Linked DNA regions of Homo sapiens. The protein of the gene in region 4 interacts with the protein of the main gene of each other region in a biochemical or structural test. Each region holds a gene or a part of one and is shown on either strand. Other genes may lie near its edges.

Region 1 (5,373 bases), on a different chromosome or scaffold from region 4:
CTCAGCTGCTCGGGAGGCTGAGGCAGGAGAATCGCTTGAACCCAGGAAGCAGAGGTTGCAGTGAGCTGAGATCGCCACTGCACTCAAGCCTGGGTGACAGAGCTAGACTCCGTCTCAAAAAAAAAAAAAAAAAAGGGCTCCTGCTGTTTGCAAACTCTTGGCTGCTACTCTGTGGGTAGTTGCACGGTTATTTAAAATTAAACGCGTATTGAATGCAGACTCTAAGGCTCCATGGCAGCAGTTCATATTATGCAACAGCATGAATGGAGGGTCATAGCGTCTTCATGTCACTTGGGTAGTAAGATTGGCACAGTTTAGAAGAGCAAGAAAATGCTGAAATCTCTTCATCAGTAGGCTACTACGTACTCTGTGACGCTACTGCCTTTTCAGAACACTTATTAAAAATTTGACTAGAGCAGCAGCTCTGGACTAGACTGTTTCAGAATGTTTGTGCGTGTGTGTGTGTGTGTGTGTGTGTGTGTGTGTGTGTGTGTGTTTGATGATAAGTCCATCTCTTGAAAAGCTGAAGAATATTTTCATAATAAGCCCCAAGCAGAAGCCATTGTAACGCATCTCGTGCATGTGCCTTTATTATAGAGTAGCCTCATGTGAAGCCATCTCGTAAGCAAAAGAAACATTCGCTGGTGGCACGCTGTCCCAGGCACTCTTCCAGGGCTGTGTGCACCATCAACAAGGCAAAGCTCCTACCCTGGTGAGCCTACATTTACGTGAAGGAAAGGGTTAAAAAGGCAACTGAGATGCTTCCTGGTAGTAAATTTAACAGTACAGCTGTGATTAAAAACTAAGCCGGATCAGAAGATGGGGGTGAGATTCCTTTAGGCAGGTTGGGCAGGAGCCACACTGAGGAGGCAGCATTTGCCTTGAGTGGGCACTGCTGGTTTGAGGAGGTGGAGTTCTGTCACCCCCACAGCACCCCAGGGCTGCTCGAGGCACTGCCCCACCTCAGTCTGTAAACTTTGGGCAGAAGAAGTTCAAGTTTTCGACATCGAACTTTCTTGTAAAAAAGAAGAGGCCCAAAGTTTGAGGCGGTGGGATTCCTTATCTTGTGTTGACTTTCACGGGTCATCTTCACCCCAGGCGGTTTCTGCTGTGAACTCACAAATGAGTCTTTGTCCAGTTCTCACCCAACAACTGGCGTCTCCTTTTTAAAAGCCAGCTTCTCTTCCCTGCCAAGGTGCATACAGCAGTTTGGGGCCACACTTTGGCTCTTTAGATGGGACCTTGTATACAGCTGACACGGCCTGCCCAGGTGACACTATGAGGGGCTGAGGCGGCTGCCTTTTCCCTTTCAAAAGGGCGTTTTGTTCCTGTGGCCTTGTGGAAAAGGCAGAAGGCTCTGAGGCATCTGAAATTTGGAGAAAGTAAGCAGCGTTTCCGCTCTGACTCCTCGGACGCTTCCCCCACGTGACCTTCCCAGGAGCCCCGCTGCCTTTTTGCCTCCCGCGGCTGCCTCCTGCCATCTCTGCGGCCAGATGAGCCTTGGGATTGGCCTCTTGTGGGAGAGTTTCCTGGCATCCTGGGGACTTGAAAAGGGGCTCTTTTACCTTCTCTCCTTCTGTATTTGTAGGGTCTTGGGTTTATTTTTCTTGAACTTTCCTTGTGCCTGGTTTGCATTTTTACCTTGCTGGTCCTCGGCCAGTTTAAAAACCCTGCTCCAGGTCTTGTCGTGTTGTGGTTCTGCATCAGGAAGCTGCATCCTGCATCAGGTTAGGGACTTGGATTTAGAAACATTTCAGTATGAGTCTTTGTTTTAACTTGAAGTGAGAAACCGGCTTCCTTCAAAGGCACTGGGAGAGATTTCCTGCCAGGCACCATCCTCCCTCACCCACTGGCAGTGGACTCCCCAAATTCTGGTTCCCGTTGCTGGCAGGACCTGTCTTCTGCAGGGAAAGGGAGAGAGGGAGACATTGTTATGTTAACCATTGAGGTTTTTCATTGATCCCCCCACCCATGCACCCCCACAACCCCATAAAGGGGAGTTGGTGCTAATCAGCGTTTTCTGAGTCAGGGCCTATTTGGTAGAGTCCTCCAAAGCTGTAATGCAGGATTGTTTCCTCTTGTGTAATAAGGGATAGGTGGGTCATAAAAATGCCGATTGCTCCCAGCTCCACAGACTCCTCCCTGGGAAACCCAATGACTTAACAGCAAGGGTGTGAAACCCCAAAGACAGCCCCACCCAGGAAGTTCATGGGCTCTCAGGGCTTGGCATCACCTCTCACCCTAGGATTTCTGGAACAGATGAAAAGACTGAAGCTAAATAGATTCTTCTCGGATGTGTTGATGAGCCCGCTCAGCCGGTTCCTCGTTAGGTCTCAGAAGTTGCTGTGGGATATATCGCACTGTTTTTTTGTTTTAGCCACCCTGTCCCTCTGTTCCAAATGGTCAGAAGCTGGATGCTGGGGGCCCTGAGGTTAAGAGGAAGCCAACAGAGTCACTGAAAAATAACTTTTCATGGGAGTTTCTAAACCATATTCTTCTGTCTTGTAAGCTAATCACAGCAGTAGCAAGGAGTTGGGACCAAGATTGTCAGCTGTGTCCCAAATGTTTCCAGTCATGGTCACGAGTTTCCCGAAGGCTGTGATTCTGCCTTGTTTTCCAGGAGGCTCCTCTGGTTGTGGTCTTGCAAGGCACTAGCAATTGGAGTGACCGCTGTGTGTGTCAGCCAGCTCTTCCTGCGCCGAGCACCTCCTGAACGTCACCGATAAGGCGGGGACGCCAGCATCTAATGGGACTGCTGGGAGGATTGAGTCCCATATCTGAAGTCCCTTGAGATACCGGCATCCCTGCCTTATGGTTGAAGGCACTGAGCCTGGTGAAGGGATGTGCTCAAGGCTGTGGAGCTCGCACGTGGCTGTCTGTGCTGCACGAGCTGGCAGTGCCTGGCAGGTACTGCACACCTCAAATACCCTGGGAAGATAAGAGATGAGTGAATGTGTGGCCCCTGCCCTTGGGAGCTGATGGCCTCATAGGAGTGAGATGCTGAAAGGAGTCACTGGAGTGAAGTGACAGTGCCACTGCGGCGAGTACCTGTAGCTGGTGTGGCAGGAGCAGGGCTGGATAGCTTTGAGGAGAGAGAACCGAGTGCACAGCGGAGGCTGGGCCCAGAGCTGGAAGGTCTCTGTGTGGGTTGGGCCCAGGCCCTGGAGCTCATCCTGGAGCTCCCAGGCTGGCAGTGATGGGTCGGGGTGGTGACCCAGTCAGTGTAGCAATAACAGTGTGGGAGGGGAGGCTGTGGCAGAGGAGACAGGAAGCCCAAATAGCAGCAGAGGCAGTCCAGGCAAGCATCGGGGATGGGGAGCAGCAGTGAGGCTGGAGAGGACATCATGAAAGGTGGCTACCTGGAAGAGCAGGCAGCTCTGAGACTTGAAAGGTTTCCCAAGGCTGAGAGTTCTCACCTTGGAAAAGCTTTGCAGTTAACGTGCAGTGGCATTTCAGTGTGCATGCAGGATGTCCCTACCCACACACAACTGCACACACACGCGGCACCTGCCCTTCCTCCACCCGTCCCAGAGAATGCACTTTCCCAGTGCTACATACCCACACATAACCGCACACACACGCGGCACGTGCCCTTCCTCCATCTGTCCTGGAGAATGCACATTCCTAGTGCCGAGATGCTGCCATCCCTGTTCTGCTACATTTGTTCTTTTAGAAAAGTTCTGGACCTTTGTGAAGGATGGTTTGGAGAAGAAAACCAAACGAAGGAGCTTGAGTCCAGGTGGCCCTGTTCTGTTTTGTAGGACTTTGTGTTTTATGCCCCACGTCTGAGAATCAACAAGCGGATCCTGCAGCTCTGCATGGGCAACCATGAGTTGTATATGCGCCGCAGGAAGCCTGACACCATCGAGGTGCAGCAGATGAAGGCCCAGGCCCGGGAGGAGAAGCATCAGAAGCAGCTGGAGCGGTGAGCGCGTGAGGCCAGAGTGGGGGGGGCCTGTGTTCTCCCAACTCAGCCACTGGCAGCCAGTGCCTGTCAGGTGACTGTGGAGCTGATGGGGAGAGTGTGGTGGAATGGAACCCAGTCACCACGCTGGGATCTTCGAGGCCTTTGTCTCTGGGCGGTTGCTGTGGTGCTGAGCCTGTTGTCAGCCCTGGAGCGGCTGCTCCGTCAGGCAGCTCAGGCTGGCAGCAGGCTAGGGTGGCCCTCAGGATACCAAGTCCATCCTGGAGCTTCAAGTACCCGTGAAGTGTGTTGACCCCTCACTTTCCTGCCAGAGTCTAAATCTCCCTGTGCCTCTTTTTCCCTGCACCAGGCAACAGCTGGAAACAGAGAAGAAAAGGAGAGAAACCGTGGAGAGAGAGAAAGAGCAGATGATGCGCGAGAAGGAGGAGTTGATGCTGCGGCTGCAGGACTATGAGGAGAAGACAAAGAAGGCAGAGAGAGGTCAGGCGCCCTGGGGCTGGCACTCTACACTGGGTCATGCATTTCCACAGAGTAGCAGGGGCCACACCCACCCACCCACTCACCAGGAAGGAAACCAAGAACGTGTCCCACAGCGCAGACTCACAGCCGAAATGATAAAATGGTTATTTGGTTTGGAAAACAGTTCTGTACTTATTTAACTTTGATGCTAGTTGTTCTAAGACTTTGTATTTTAAAATTTCCCTAGTCTTTTGCGGTAAGTGCTCAATCACCCAGTTTCCCCGATGAGGACAGTAAGGTTTGGTGCGGTACAGTGATTTGCCCACAGTCCCCCAGCCCATGACTGACAGGGCCATGCTGCACTGCCCTCGACCTCTAGACTAAAACCCAAAGGCGTGTTCAGAGCCAGACTTCCCAGCACAGCTCCAGTCAACAACCCCAGCAGCTGGGCCGATTACACAAGGCGCCACAGATGCTGTATTCACTGGCAGCCCTTACAGCACACATGGGAAGGGTGTTCTGTGTTCTGAGTGGAGTGTGGACCACCAGCACAGCGGGCGGCTGACCTGGGGAGAGTAGCGCCAAGAGGGTTGAGTCAGGCATGCCAGAGAGAGGGCGCCTGGCTGGCGTTGGACGGGTTTCTAGCCATCTTGAGGAAGTTGTCATGGATACAGCAGCAATGAGCTCTGTGAAGTGCTTTCCTCCAGGGTCACTGGAAGACATCCCCTCAACCTGTGACTTGGTCTAGGGCTCTGTGGCTTTGGGGGTGGGAATGGAAAGCGAGGGCTCCTAGGTCCCTGGGCTGAGGGTTTGAATGGCTCTGGCTTTGTGTCTTTGCAGAGCTCTCGGAGCAGATTCAGAGGGCCCTGCAGCTGGAGGAGGAGAGGAAGCGGGCACAGGAGGAGGCCGAGCGCCTAGAGGCTGACCGTATGGCTGCACTGCGGGCTAAGGAGGAGCTGGAGAGACAGGCGGTGGATCAGATAAAGAGC
Region 2 (5,373 bases), on a different chromosome or scaffold from region 4:
GCCATATTGACCAGGCTAGTCTTGAACTCCTGACCTCAAGTGATCCGCCCACCTCAGCCTCTCAAAGTGCTGGGATTACAGGCATAAGCCCCTGCACCAGCCATTTATTTCTTATACAACTTGCAGGATGAGGCGAATGATGTATTCCCCATTTTACAAGGTCACCCAACCAGACAGCGGGAGAGCCAGGATTCCAACCCAGGACTCAATATCCGTGAAGCCTTCACTCTTGGCAGACAGAAGAGGAGGAAGAACTGAGGTGGGCGTGTGAGATGTGGGGAGACTAAGGCGGAGGAGGGGGTTCACACTCACAGAGCACACGGAGCATGACTGGAGCAGAGGCAGCAGCCCCAGTGGGGAGCTCAGCCAGGCAGTGGTACATCCCAGCTTGAGCACGAGCCACGTGGGTGAAGGCGAGAGTGGGCACAGGCTCCGCGTGCAGCCGCCGGTCATTCCAGAACCATGCAAAGGTGGAGTTGCCCACAGGCCCAGGGCCACCCAGGAGGCGGCAGCTGAGGTTCAGGGCAGCGCCCTCAGGCACGTCCAGGCCAGGCTCTGCCACCACGCGTGCACCTGCGGGCGGAGGATAGAGAGATGATTGGGGATCTGTAGGCCTTGGGGGCTGGAGCCTCTGGGTGGGACCTCTGAGGGGCCTCTGCACATTGTGGGAAGGTCTCAGTCTGACTTGGTATAGGGCTTTCCAAGGTGGAACCATGCCCCCTCCAGTGGGAGCTGTGCCCCCTCCACCAGATTAGGCTTCTCAAGGCAGAGCTTTCTCAGACCAGACAGCCCGCTCTAGTGGGAGCTCCAGCCCCTCTCGTGGACTTGGACCTGAGAGCATCAGAGCCCCTCCTCCTCCCCTCTCTTCCACTCACCTTCTACCTGCAACCGCCCGATGGTGCTGATTGAGCCCAGCAAGTTTTGGGCTGTGCAAACATAGGTGTCATCACCTGCAGGCACATCTTGCACCTGCAGCCGTAGGGCGTTTCGGGCCACCTGGACATGGCCTGTCCCTGATGCCAAGCTGTGGACCCCGCTGCTCGTGGCCAGCACCTTGCCATCATGAGATAGGGCCAGCTCAGCAGGTGGCTCACTGTCCACAGTGCACTGTATCACAGCCATGGATCTGGCCCTGGAGTCCCGGAAGGAGGACAGGACAGCGTCCTGAGGGGCATCTGTGGGCAGGCAGGGCACAGATGGGGACCTTGCTTAGGCACCCTGTACTGCTCATTGCCTAGCTGCCTGGGGTTGGTCAGGCTGAGGCCTCTGGACCAATGGCCACTTCCTAGAAGTGACACCTTCCCAGGAGTCCTGTGGGCAGAGTGCTCCAGGCAGGGCTTATAGGACTGTCTCTTTCTCTAGCACCTATGTCCTCTTTCCCCAACTGCCCATTCCTGGGCCCACTGCAGTCCTTTGCCCACTCCCACCAGAGCCCAGAAGCACCCTCCACCACCCTCCTCCTGGGCAGCCCTGGCCAAGGACCCTCTGCTCACAGAGGACTTGCAGGGCAGCAGGACGGGAGCTGCGGGTGCCCTGGGCATCCTGGGCCTGGCAAGAGTAGGCGCCTGCATGAGCCCGCGTGGCCACCAGGAATGAGAGTGAGGCAGCTGGACCCTCCTGCAGCCAACGACCGTTGTGGTACCAAGTATAGAGTGTGGGTGCGTGGGCAGCAGGGTCCGCACAGGTCACTGTGATGGGGGCACCTTCAGGCACGGCAGCCTCCGGAGCCAGGATCACCCGCACACCTGTGCCAAGGAGGCCAGGATCAGCCGGGCCCAGCCGGACACCACAGTGGGCTTCCATCCCAGTGGGCTTGGCCTAGGCCCTGCCTTACCCTCCAGCCGCAGCTCCAGGGACGTGTTGGCCTGGCCCAGAGGGCTGCGGGCAGAGCAGCTGTAGAAACCCTCATCCCTGGGCTGTGGCCCTCGCAGCTCCAGGCGCAGGGTGTTGGGGACAGAGGCTGCTGTCGAGGAGGCCAAGAGGCGACCGGCGTGGCTGAGGGCCAGCTGGGCGGGCGGGCGGCTGTCCACAGTGCACAGTACCAGGGCCAGCTGCCCGCCATGGCTCTCCAGGAGGTAGGTCAGGCGCAGGTTGCGGGGCGCGTCTGCAGGGCATGAGAGGCTTACACGGAGTCACAGGCAGCAGCCTGCAGGAGGCCAGTTTGCAGGTGGCATTCAAACTCAGGAGGGCCCTGGCTCCCCACCCCTATGGCTCCCAACCACCCAGTCTGAGGCACTGCTCCTCTGCCCAGACAGGACTCACCCCAGCGCCCCCTACTCTTAATGCTCCTTGCCCAGTGCTCCACTAGCTACTGGGTACCGAGTTCCCCACTGGACACCTGTCGGGTTCCGGCCATGCCGTGATCCCTGTGGGCTTCTGTCATTCCTGTGAGTCCCACCCTGCATCCAGCCAGACTCACAGAGGACGTCCAAGGTGATAGGTCTGGAGAGGCGGGGTGCCCGACCAGGGGGGCCCACACCGCAGCGGTAGGAGGTGGCATCCCTGACTGTGACGTTGGGCAGGGGGATGGAGTGGGCATCCAGGCGCTGCTGCCCATCCTGGTACCATGTGTAGGTGAGCTGGGCCGGGTGAGTGGTCCACACAAGGCAGGTCAGGTTCACCAGCTGCCCCTCCCGCACGGTAGCCCCGGGCCACACCTGCACATTCACAGCTGGGGAGAGGGAGGGCACAGGACACCAGTGAGGGTCTTGAGGCTGTGTACAGCAGGCCACCTGTCTCCATGTGGGTGAGCTACTCCTACTGCTGGGGAGCCCCTTGGCCTTTGGGAGCCTTGGGTGGCCCACCTATAAATGTGGCTTAGAAGTCAAGCTTGGGAATAGCCCACTGGCTCCTGAGTGGTCCCAAGTAGAGTTCCACAGAGTCCTGGAAAGCCCTGAGCCCCTCCCTGACCCTGGCTGGGGGCAAATGGGGAGACCACAGACCTCCCCTCCCCTGCTGCACTTTCTCCTGAAATTCCCTGTTTAGTTTTATCCACTGGGCATACTTGTAAAATTTGGTGTTTATAAAAGGTTCTCCTAAGAAACTCAAGTCTGGAGTCCACCATCGTTAGGAAGGGTGGGAATGGGGACTATTCCCGTGCCCCCAGGCTTCTAGAACCCTGTCCCACCTCCTCTCCTCTTTTAAAGGACACACACACACACACACACACACACACACACACACACACACTGACCTTGAGCGTCGAAGTCAGCTGAGGCCGAGGCCTGGCCCAGGGTGTTGGAGGCCTCACAGATATAGACACCCTCATCCTCCAGCATAGCCCCGTGGATCTCCAGACGCAGTGTGTTGGGGGCCACAGCCACATGCAGCCTGGGAGAGCTGCCTTCGGGTCCCCCCACACCTTGTAGGGTGGAGGCCACAAGGCGATCCCCGTGGAGCAGCCGCAGCTGGGCCGGAGGGTCACTGTCCACACGGCACAGGAGGAGGCCCAGTCGTCCAGGGCCTGTGTCCATCAGGGTAGTGAGTGTGACGTGGCGTGGGGCATCTACACAGGGTGGGGAGTGGTCAGGACCCAGCCAGGGGGGTCCCTCATCCAGGGCTCTGTCATGTGACACAGCCCAGGACTGGGGGACTGCATTCCTTCCCCCACACCTGGATGGGACAAAAGTCCTTACAGGACACGTGGAGGCTGATGGGTGCAGCTAGGCTCGTGGTGGCTGAGCCTGGGGCCTGGGCTTGGCAATGATAGGCCCCAGCTTGTGTCAAAGTTATGGCTGCAAAGCGGAGCGTGGCCGAGGTCGACTCCTGGAGGGGCTGGCCATCCCGATACCAACGATATGAGGTCCCCTCTGGGACTCCTGTGTGTACCTGGCAGCTCAGGACCACAGCCTGGCCCTCTTGGAGCTCAGGTGATGGTGACACCTGGACCCAGGCTCCTGCAGGGGAAAACCAAGAGCAGGTGAGGGCTCTCCACCACACCTCTCACAGTCTGGGACCATGTGCGTGTCCACCTAGGACTACACAACCCAACCCCATGTGCTGGAGCCGCAGCCCCTTCCAGACCACCGCCAGGGCCCACTCAGCCCTATGCCTTGGCCCCTCCTGCTCCCCACTCTCCTGCACAGGCTCCATCCTGGCATTTACCTCCCACCACCTGGTGGGATGGTTTTACTGTGTCAGTCATATCTCGCCTACCAAAGCGTAAGCCTTATGGGCACTGGACTTGTGTGACCTGTAACCCCAGTTCCAGGCACTGTGCCTGCATGTGTTAGCTCCTGACAAATGTTGGTTCAACCCATAAAGTACTGAAAAGGGAGGGATTTAGATCATCCCGGGGCCATTGTCCTAACTAGGATCTGGACTCAGCATGGGTGACCGAGGGCTTGGAAGGGAATGTTAGCAGCTATGTTATCTTGAGCGCTCTCGCCAGGCCAGCCCTGCATCCAGACTCCAGGCCACAAGAGCACAGGACCTGGGGACCAGGCAAAGGGCAGCTCCTCAGTGGCCCCTGGGTGTGAAGCAGGAGAACCCCAGGTTGCAGGGAGTGAGATGGAGGGACAGCTGGAATGCTAAGCAAGAACACAGACCATGCCTGAGACCACAGCTAGCAGGGTCATGCAACTGGGGAAAAGCTCCTAAAACTCAAACCTTCAATTTCTTCCTGCGAAATAGGTATGCTAAGTAAGAAAAGATACACAGAACCAAGGCTCAAAGTAAATGTCCCAAAATTGGTGCTGTCGGTCACCGTGGTGGAAGAAACACTCATGTTCCTTTGACCTTCGCATTATGGGCATTATCTTTCCTTTTTCCTGGTTTATTTGTTTAGGGAGAATTTTTTTTTTTTTAAGACAGAGTCTCACTCTGTCATCCAGGCTAGAGTGAAGTACAATTTTGGCTCACTGCAACCTCCATCTCCCAGGTTCAAACGATTCGCCTGCCTTAGCCTCCCGAGTAACTGGGATTACAAATGCCCACCACCACACCTAGCTAATTTTTGTATTTTTAGTAGAGTGTTGGCCAGGCTGGTCTTGAACTCCTGACCTCAAGTGATCCGCCCGCCTCAGCCTCCCAAAGTGCTGGGATTACAGGCATGAGCCATGGTGCCCGGCCTGAGGGAGGATTTTTATAGAGACTATATATATACACACACACAAACACACACACACACACACACACACACGTATGTGTATATAAATAAAGAATATGAATATATTATGCATAAGAATACACATAATGTATATTTGTATGTGTATATACTCATACATAAACATATATGCATAATATAAATATACATATGTATGAGAATGTTTACTATGTAACAAAATTATATGATCACAAAACAAGTTATTTCAGAAAGTGCTCCCACCAAGCAAGCCACTCTGTGAATTGCCATTGCCTCCTAGTGGCTGCTGC
Region 3 (5,373 bases), on a different chromosome or scaffold from region 4:
CCGTCTCTACTAAAAGTACAAAATTACCCGGGCGTGGTGGCGCATGCCTGTAATCCCAGCTACTCGGGAGGCTGAGGCAGGAGAATCGCTTGAACCTGGGAGGCGGAGGTTGCGGTGAACTGAGATCGTGCCATTGCACTCCAGCCTGGGCAACAAGAGCTAAACTCCGTCTCAAAAAAAAAAAAATGTTTTTCAAATATTAGCCGGGTATGGTGGTGTCCTGTAGTCCCAGCTACTTGGGAGGCTGAGATGGGAGGATCACTTGAGCCCAGGAGTTCAAGGTTACAGTGAGCTATGATTGTGCCACTGTATTCCAGCCTGGGTAACAGAGGGAGACCCGTTTAAAAAAAAAAAAGTGATGGCTAAAGTCCTTCCATGGCTCCCTATTGCCCTCAGTATAAAGAACACATGTGGCTGGGCGTGGTGGTTCACGCCTGTAATCCCAGCACTTTGGGAGGCTGAGGCGGGCGGATCACTTGAGGCCAGGAGTTTGAGAGCAGGCTGGCCGACGTGGCGAAACCCCGTCTCTATTAAAAATACAAAAATTAGCTGGGCGTGGTGGTGCTTGCCTGTAATCCCAGATACTCTGGAGGCTGAGGCAGGAGAATCACTTGAACCCGGGAGGCAAAGGTTGCAGTGAGCTGAGATTGCGCCACTGCACTCCAGTCTGAGTGACAAAGCGAGACTCCATCTCAAAAAAAAAAAAAATAAAAGAACACATCTTTAGCATGGCCTTCAGTGCTCACGGGATCTTCCTGAATTAATCTCCCCCTCTTCATCCTTGCTCACTCAGCTCCAGCCACCCTGCCCCGGGACATCTGTACTTGCCTGGAACTTATTTCCCTTTTCTCCGGACAGCCAGCCCTTTCTCGTCATTTAGATCTCTGCTGAAACATTACCCTGTCACCAAAGCACTGTCTATTCTATCACCCTGTTTTGTTTTTGTCAAAGCTCATATTAACATCAGTTATTAATTATCTTGTTTGCTCATAATTTTTTTTTTTTTTTTTTTGGAGACAGAGTCTCGTTCTGTTGCTCAGGCTGGAGTGCAGTGGCACAATCTTGGCTCACTGTAACCTCCACCTCCCAGGTTCAAGTGATTCTTGTGCCTCAGCCTCCCAAATAGCTAGGACTACAGGCACGTCCCACCATGCCCAGCTAATTTTTGTATTTTTAGTGGAGACGGGGCTTTGTCATGTTGGCCAGGCTGATCTCAAATTCCTGACCTCAAGTGATCTGCCCGCCTTGGCCTCCCAAAGTGCTGGGATTACAGGCGTGAGCCACCACACCCGGCCTGCTCATGAATTTTCTCTTTAACTTCCACATCGAAGGCAAAGTATTGTCTTGTTAAGGCTGTGCCTCCAGCACCCAGCACAGGCTGGGCGCACATTCCCTTGATGAACCTGATTTGTAATGCCTGTCGCCTCTTCCCTCGTTTCTTCTAGGACCTGGCAATGCCCAGACATCTGTGTCCCCCTCAAAAGTCATCCTGCCCCGGGGAGGCTCCGTGCTGGTGACATGCAGCACCTCCTGTGACCAGCCCAAGTTGTTGGGCATAGAGACCCCGTTGCCTAAAAAGGAGTTGCTCCTGCCTGGGAACAACCGGAAGGTGTATGAACTGAGCAATGTGCAAGAAGATAGCCAACCAATGTGCTATTCAAACTGCCCTGATGGGCAGTCAACAGCTAAAACCTTCCTCACCGTGTACTGTGAGTAACTGAGCCCGGAGGGCTGGACTAGGCAGACCCGGTGGGAGAGACGTGCAGGGGCACCTGCAGAGGCCTGGGGGAATCTTTGCCACTTGCTCGTAGGGTCAAGGAGGGGCTCCTTGCAGGGCAGGTGGGGACATCCTTGGAAAGTCCCTTTGTGAATTTCTTTGGGTACAATTAAAGTATTTACAGGCTGGGTGCGGTGGCTCATGCCTGTAATCCCAGCACTTTGAGAGGCTGAGGCTGGCGGATCACCTGAGATCAGGAGTTTAAGTTTCGCCAACATGGCGAAACCCTGTCTCTGCTGAAAATACAAAAATCAGCCGGGCATGGTGTCAAGCGCCTGTAATCCCAGCTACTTGGAAGGCTGAGGCAGGAGAACGCTTGAACCTGAGAGGCAGAGATTGCAGTGAGCCGCGATCGTGCCAGTGCACTCCAGTCTGGATAACAGAGCAAGATTCCATCTCAAGAAAAAAAAAATGCCATCTCTCTATGCCTCACTCTTTGAACATATGACACGGTCCTGCTTCAGACACTTTAATAAAAGATGCAAATTAAGCCAAGTGTGGTGGCTTGTACCTATAATCCCAACTACTCCAGAGGCTGAGGCAGAAGGATGGTTTGAGCCCAGGAGTTTGAGACCAGCCTGGGCAACAGAGTGAGACCCTGTTTCTTTCTTTTTTTTTTTTTTTTTTTTGAGACGGAGTCTCACTCTGTCGCCCAGGCTGGAGTGCAGTGGTGTGATCTCGGCTCACTGCAAGCTCCGCCTCCCGGGTTCACGCCATTCTCCTGCCTCAGCCTCCCGAGTAGCTGGGACTACAGGCGCCTGCCACCATGCCCGGCTCATTTTTTTGTATTTTTAGTAGAGACGGGGTTTCACTGTGTTAGCCAGGATGGTCTCAATCTCCTGACCTAGTGGTCCGCCCGCCTCGGCCTCCCAAAGTGCTGGGATTACAGGTGTAAGCCACTGTGCCCATCCAAGACCCTGTTTCTACCGGAAAAAAAAAGTAAATAATTTAGCTGGGCATCGTGGTGTGCACCTGTAATCCCAGCTGCTCCTGAGGCTGTGATGGGAGGATTGCTTTAACCCAGGGGTTCGAATCCTAGGAGTTCGAATCCATCCTAGGCAACATAGCAAAACCCCATTTTTATTTAAAAAAAAAAAAAAAGATATGAGTTAAAACTAGCCCTGGGATGGCATTTTTCACATATTGGTAACAAACAAAAGAATTGATGGCCGGGCGCAGTGGCTCACGCCTGTAATCCCAGCACTTTGGGAGGCCGAGGCGGGCGGATCACAAGGTCAGGAGATCGAGACCATCCTGGCTAACATGGTGAAACCCCGTCTCTACTAAAACTACAAAAAATTAGCCGGGCATGGTGGCAGGCGCCTGTGGTCCCAGCTACTCAGGAGGCTGAGGCAGGAGAATGGCATGAACCCGGGAGGCAGAGCTTGCAGTGAGCCAAGATCGTGCCACTGCACTCCAGCCTGGGCGACAGAGCAAGACTCCATCTCAAAAAAAAAAAAAAAAAAAAGAATTGATAACAGCTGTGCTGCCAAGGCTATTGGAACGTAGGAGGTCCTAGGACAGTGCTGTTGGGAGCATAAATAAGCCCAACCCTGTGGCGGGAAATTGGGCATCAGTTCTCAAAATGTCATGGGCTGGGCACGGTGGCTCACGCCTGTAATCCCAGCACTTTGGGAGGCTGAGGGAGGCGGATCACTTGAGGTCAGGAGTTCGAGACCAGCCTGACCACCATGGAGAAACCCCGTCTCTATTAAAAATACAAAAAAAACTAGCCAGGCATAGTGGCACATACCTGTAATCCCAGCTACTCGGGAGGCTGAGGCAGGAGAATCTCTTGAAACTGGGAGGCAGAGGTTGCGGTGAGCTGAGATTGCGCCACTGCACTCCAGCTTGGGCAACAAGAGCAAAACTCCATCTCAAAAAAAAAAAAAAAAGAAATAAAAGAAGGTATGTTGAATATGAGTGGTATGCCACCCTCACATTAGGGAAGGGCAGTTTCGGGGAGGCTGTATTTATGTATAAAATAGCCCTAAAAGGAAGTGGGAGAAATGACAATATTAGCTGGCTATGAGAAGAGAGGCTGGGAGGCTGTGGGAGAGGGCTTGGGTGTGGAGAATTCTTTTTGTTTTTTCCTTTTTTTGAGACAGAGTTTCACTCTTGTTGCCCAGGCTGGAGTGCAATGGCACGATCTCAGCTCACCGCAACCTTCACCTCCTGAGTTTAAGTGATTCTCCGGCCTCAGCCTCCCGACTAGCTGGGATTACAGGCATGGGCCACTACGCCTGGCAAATTTTGTATTTTTAGTAGAGACAGGGTTTCTCCATGTTGGTCAGGCTGGTCTTGAACTCTGACCTCAGGTGATCCGCCCGCCTCGGCCTCCCAAAGTGCTGGGATTACAACGTGAGCCACTTTGCCTGGCTGAGAATTCTTTTTTTGTTGTTGTCTTTTTGAGATGGAGTTTTGCTGTGTCCCCAGCCTGGAGTGCAATGGTGTAATCTCAGCTCACTGCAACCTCTCCCTCCCGGGTTCAAGCAATTCTCCTGCCTCAGCCTCCCAAGTAGCTGGAATTACAGGCGCCCAGCACCACGCCCGGCTAATTTTTGTATTTTTAGTAGAGACGGGATTTCATCATGTTGGCCAGGCTGGTCTTGATCTCCTGACCTTGTGATCTGCCCGCCTCGGCCTCCCAAAGTGCTGGGATTACAGGCGTGAGCCACTGCCCCCAGCCGAGAATTTCTCTTTGCGTCCTTCCTACTTTGGGGACTTCGAATGGTGGGAAAGAGTTATCAAGGCCAAAATAAGGAATTCAAATGAAAACAAAACAAAATCAAAGAAGAAAAAACAGAAGAGCACTGGGCAGGCTAGGCACGTGGCTCATGCCTATAATCCCAGTGATTTAGAAGGCCGAAGTAGAAGGATCGCTTGGAGGCCAGGAGTTGGACACCAGCCTGGGCAACATAGCAAGACCCCATATCTACAAAAAATAAAAAACCTAACCAAGCGTGCTGGCATACTAGTAGTCCCAGCTACTCAGGAGGCTGAGGTGGGAGGATCACCTGAGCCTGGGAGGTCCAGGCTGTAGTGAGCCGTGATGACACCACTGCACTCCAGCCTGGGTGACAGAGAAAGACCCTGTCTCTAAAAAATAAAAACTGGCCAAGTAGCTTTGGGATTAGCCTTGGGTTCCAGTCCCAGCAAGGCCTTTAATAGCTTGGGACATGACTTCTGCATTTACTTTGCAATCAGGTGAGACCTCCTCTGATGGGGAAAATGACACGGTGAGTGACAAAGGATGTTCTCCTATCATTGTGTCAGGGCAAGGAAGCCTCTGGGTAAATGATCAAATGATCAGCTTTGCTTCTGATTTGGAGGGTGGGTGAGCAGATGCTGACCTTCCCAGGTGAGGGAAGTCCCCGAACATTCCCAGCAGCTTCTGGAAACCCCAGGGAAACCTCTTTGAAGGTCTTTTCTGCATCTCTGCCTGATAGGTCTTTTTTTTTTTTTTTTTTTTTTTCTTTTTTTTGACACACAGTCTTGCTCTGTCGCCCAGGCTGGATCACTGCAACCTCCATCTCCCGGGTTCAAGCAGTTCTCCTGCCTCATCCTCTCCAGTAGCTGGGATTACAGGCACCTGG
Region 4 (4,096 bases):
CATTGTGAAACCCCGTCTCTACCAAAAATACAAAAATTAGCTGGGCATGGTGGCATGTGCTTGTAGTCCCAGCTACTCGGGAGGCTGAAACAGGATAATCACTTGAACCCGGGAGGTGGAGCCGAGATCGCGCTACTGCACTCTAGCCTGGGGAACAGAGCAAGACTTTGACTCAAAAAAAAAAAAAAAAAGAAAAGAAAAAAAAGGAAAATCTTCAATGTGCTGATAATTAACTTTTGCAAAACAGGAAAAAATGTTATTTTACTGTCTGGAAAAAATAAATATTTTGAACATGTTAAACTACCCTTCTTCACCCCTCTCCTCCAAATAAAGTGTGTGGCATATTTAGGGAGCAACAGGAATTTGATGGGGCTGGATAGCACAGACTGTCTGTAACAAGGGCTGACCGGGCAGGGGTGGTCAGAGGAGAGATAGGGCCAGGTCCCGAGGGGCTTATATGCCACGCTAAGGAAGGAGGGTTCCACCCTGACAGCCTTGGGGATAGAGGAATATCACCTAGACAGAGCAGCGTTTTATTTTATTTTTAAATTTTATTATTATTATATTTTGAGACAGGGTGCCACGCAGGCTGGAGTGCAGTGGTGTGATCATGACTCGCTGCAGTCTGGACCTCTTGGGCTCAAGTGATCTTCCTACCTCATCCTCCTGAGTAGCTGGAACTACAGGTGTGTGCCACGATGCCCAGCTATTTTTCTTTTTTCTTTTTTTTTTTTTTTTGAGACGGAGTCTCATTCTGTCACCCAGGCTGGAGTGCAACGGCGCGATCTTGGCTCACTGCAACCTCCATCTCCCGGGGACCAACAATTCCCCCGCCTCAGCCTCCCGAGTAGCTGGGACTACAGGTGCACACCACCACGCCCGGCTAATTTTTGTACTTTCAGTAGAGATGGGGTTTCACCATGTTGGCCAGGCTGGTCTCGAACTCCTGACCTCAGATGATTGGCCCACCTCAGCCTCTCAAAGTGTTGGGATTACAGGCGTGAGCCACTGTGCCCAGCCCACAGTGACCTTTTAGAAGGGTCCCTGGGACCATCACTAGCAGAGAGCGGAAGGAAATCAAAGGGGAAGTGTCAATAGGATCCCGGTGAGGTGCGATGAGGACTGAAGAGAAGGAAGGGATGCAAGGGTCGGTGGAAGAAGAGCCAGGGACTTGGCACCTGGAGAGCAGGAATGGGGAAAGAGTGGGGCTGCACGGTGGTCCTAAGGCGTTTTGCCTGGGCCACCAGAACGATGCTACTCACCACTCTGGGGACTAGAAGAGAGGAGAAGAGCAGACTTAGGTGTGTTGATTTCACCACTACTTCCAGAATGCAATTCAAACTCTCAGCAGAGCACTATGGCTCACGCAGAGCACTGTGGCTCACGCCTGTAATCCCAGCACTTTGGGAGGCCGAGGCAGGTGGATCACGAGGTCAGGAGATCGAGACCATCCTGGCTAACATGGTGAAACCCTGTCTCTCCTAAAAATACAAAAAAATTAGCCTGGTGTGGTGGCGGGCGCGTGTGGTTCCAGCTACTCAGGAGGCTGAGGCAGGAGAATGGCATGAACCCGTGCCACTGCACTCCAGCCTGGGTGACAGGGTGAGACTCCGTCTCAAAAAACAAAAACAAAAACAAAAACAAACCTCAGAACTCAATTCAAACTCTTGAACTTTTCATAGCATGGCTCCAACCTCCACTTGCAGCCTCATCCCCTACCACTCTCCTCAAACCAGACACCCCCAGGCCACCCCCTTGAACACCTTTTTGACCACTATTTTTTCATATTGTAAAAGTAACAGATATTTATTGTATGAAATTCGGAAAATACAGAAGAGCATAAACAAAATAAAAATCACACATAAACTCACCACTTTGGAGATCAGCATGGAAAACATTTGCGATGGGTCCTTTGTTTCCCTATAAGTGCATATATGGTTGGGAATTTTTATTACAAAACTAAAATCATATGTATTACAGAGGAGTAACTTGCTTTTTTCCCCACTTAACATTATATTGCTGGTATTTTCCAAAGTCATTACATAATTTTCAAAAACATGATTTTTACTGACTATAAGTTCAATAAGCCATTTACAATTATTTTCATAACTAATATATTTAATCTTATACCATATTTTATATTTTCTTTTTTTAAATTTTTTTCCAAGACGGAGTCTTGCTCTGTCGCCCAGACTAGAGTGCAATGACACGATCTCGGCTCACTGCAACCTCTGCCTCCCGGTTTCAAGCAATTCTTCTGCCTCAGACCCCCAAGTAGCTGGGATTACGGGGGCATGCCACCACGCCTGGCTAATTTTTGTATTTTTAGTAGAGACAGGGTTTCACCATGTTGGCCAGGCTGGTTTCAAACTGGCCTCATGATCTGACTGCCTCGGCCTCCCAAAGTGCTGGGATTACAGGTGTGAGCCACCACGCCTGGCCATGTTCTTTCTTTTGAGACAGAGTCTCACACTATTGCCCAGGCTGGAGTGCAGTGGCATGATCACAGCTCACTATAGCCTCAAACTCCTGGGCTCAAGCAATCTTCCCTGCCTTCGCCTCTTGAGTAGCTGGTACCACAGGCGCACACCACTACACCTGGCTAATTTTTCATATTTCAAATTTTTTGTAGAGATAGGGGTCTATGTTGCCCAGGCTGGTCTCCAACTCCTGACCTCAGGTGATCTGCCCGCCTCAGCCTCCTATAGTGCCACCGCATAGCCACTGCACCCAACTATTTTCTTACTGTTCCTTGCTCTATCTCCTTTTTTTTTTTTGAGATGGAGTTTTTTACTTGTCGCCCAGGCTGGAGTGCAATGGCGTGATCTCGGCTCACTGCAACCTCCACCTCCTGGGTTCAAGGGATTCTCCTGCCTCAGCCTCCCAAGTAGCTGGGATTACAGGTGCCCGCCACCACGCCCAGCTAATTTTTTGTATTTTGAAACAGGGTTTCACCATGTTGGTCAGGCTGGTCTTGAACTCCTGACCTCAGGTGATCCACCTGCCTCGGCCTCCCAAAGTGCTGGGATTACAGACGTTGAGCCACCACGTCTGGCCTGCTCTATCTCCTTTTTTTGTTTTCCTTTTTAGTCTTAAAATATCCACTGCTTCTTTTGCTTTGCTTTTTCCTCCAGAAAATTAAAAGACATCTATTGTCGGGCACGGTGGCTCACGCATGTAATCCCAGCACTTTGGGAGGCCGAGGCATACGGATCAGCAGAGGTCGGGAGTTCAAGACCAGCTTGACCAACATGGTGAAACCCCATCTCTACTAAAAATACAAAATTATCCGGGTTTGGTGGTGCATGCCTGTAATCCCAGCTACCTGGGAGGCTGAGGCAGGAGAATTGTTTGAACCCAGGAGGCGGAGGTTCTGGTGAGCCAAGATCACGCCATTGCACTCCAGCCTGGGTAACAAGAGTGAAAACTCCATCTCAAAAAAAAAAAAAAGACATCTATTTCACGTTTGTTCAAAAAAGACTCTATATTGAACTGCTCCACTTTAAAAAATATATATATAAATGTTTACTTTTTGTAGACACGGGGTCTCACTATGTTGCCCAGGCTGGTCTCAAACTCCTGGCTTCAAGCAGTCCTCCTGCCTCAGCTTCTCAAGTAGCTGGTACTACAGGCATGCACCACCACGCCTGGCTAATTTTTTGTGTTTTTGTAGAGACAGGGTCTTTCTATGTTACCCAGGCTGGTCTTGAACTCCTAGACTCAAGCAATCCTCCCTGCTCTGCCTCCCAAAGTGCTGGGATTACAGGCATGAGCCACTGCGCTGGATCTGCTCCACGTTTTTTTTTTTTAATTATGTATTTCCACCTGCTATCCCCTCTGCTGGGAATGCCTTTTCCTTTTCCCAGCTTTGCAAAATCCTTCCCAGCCTTCAAATATCTGAGGCAAGCCTGGGCACAGTGGCTCACACCTATAATCCCAGTATTTGGGGAAGCTTAGGTGGGAGGACCACTTGAGCCCAGGAGTTTGAGACCAGCCTGGGCAACACAGCAAGACCCTGTCTGTACAAATTAAAAATTAAAAAAAAAAATTAGCTGGGCATGTTGGTGCACACCTGTGATCGCAGCTACTTGGGAGG

What was found. Proteins that work in one complex are often made in the same cells at the same time.
Region 1: the proteins of SPN (region 4) and EZR form a complex in vitro, tested with the Homo sapiens proteins (one study listed by BioGRID).
Region 2: the proteins of SPN (region 4) and SIGLEC1 form a complex in vitro, tested with the Homo sapiens proteins (one large-scale study listed by IntAct).
Region 3: the proteins of SPN (region 4) and ICAM1 form a complex in vitro, tested with the Homo sapiens proteins (one large-scale study listed by IntAct).

Annotation. Positions count from the first base shown.
Region 1 is NC_000006.12:158,769,796-158,775,168, reverse strand, and holds part of EZR (ezrin), read left to right. Parts: intron 1-3,761; coding exon 3,762-3,925; intron 3,926-4,274; coding exon 4,275-4,405; intron 4,406-5,224; coding exon 5,225-5,373. UniProt on the Homo sapiens protein: Probably involved in connections of major cytoskeletal structures to the plasma membrane. In epithelial cells, required for the formation of microvilli and membrane ruffles on the apical pole. Along with PLEKHG6, required for normal macropinocytosis.
Region 2 is NC_000020.11:3,691,028-3,696,400, forward strand, and holds part of SIGLEC1 (sialoadhesin isoform 1 precursor), read right to left. Parts: intron 3,897-5,373; coding exon 3,636-3,896; intron 3,506-3,635; coding exon 3,194-3,505; intron 2,672-3,193; coding exon 2,420-2,671; intron 2,105-2,419; coding exon 1,835-2,104; intron 1,746-1,834; coding exon 1,494-1,745; intron 1,176-1,493; coding exon 876-1,175; intron 574-875; coding exon 313-573; intron 1-312. UniProt on the Homo sapiens protein: Macrophage-restricted adhesion molecule that mediates sialic-acid dependent binding to lymphocytes, including granulocytes, monocytes, natural killer cells, B-cells and CD8 T-cells.
Region 3 is NC_000019.10:10,273,320-10,278,692, forward strand, and holds part of ICAM1 (intercellular adhesion molecule 1 precursor), read left to right. Parts: intron 1-1,445; coding exon 1,446-1,709; intron 1,710-5,373. UniProt on the Homo sapiens protein: ICAM proteins are ligands for the leukocyte adhesion protein LFA-1 (integrin alpha-L/beta-2).
Region 4 is NC_000016.10:29,668,558-29,672,653, reverse strand, and holds the end of SPN (leukosialin precursor), read right to left. Parts: 3' UTR 1,778-4,096; downstream 1-1,777. UniProt on the Homo sapiens protein: Predominant cell surface sialoprotein of leukocytes which regulates multiple T-cell functions, including T-cell activation, proliferation, differentiation, trafficking and migration.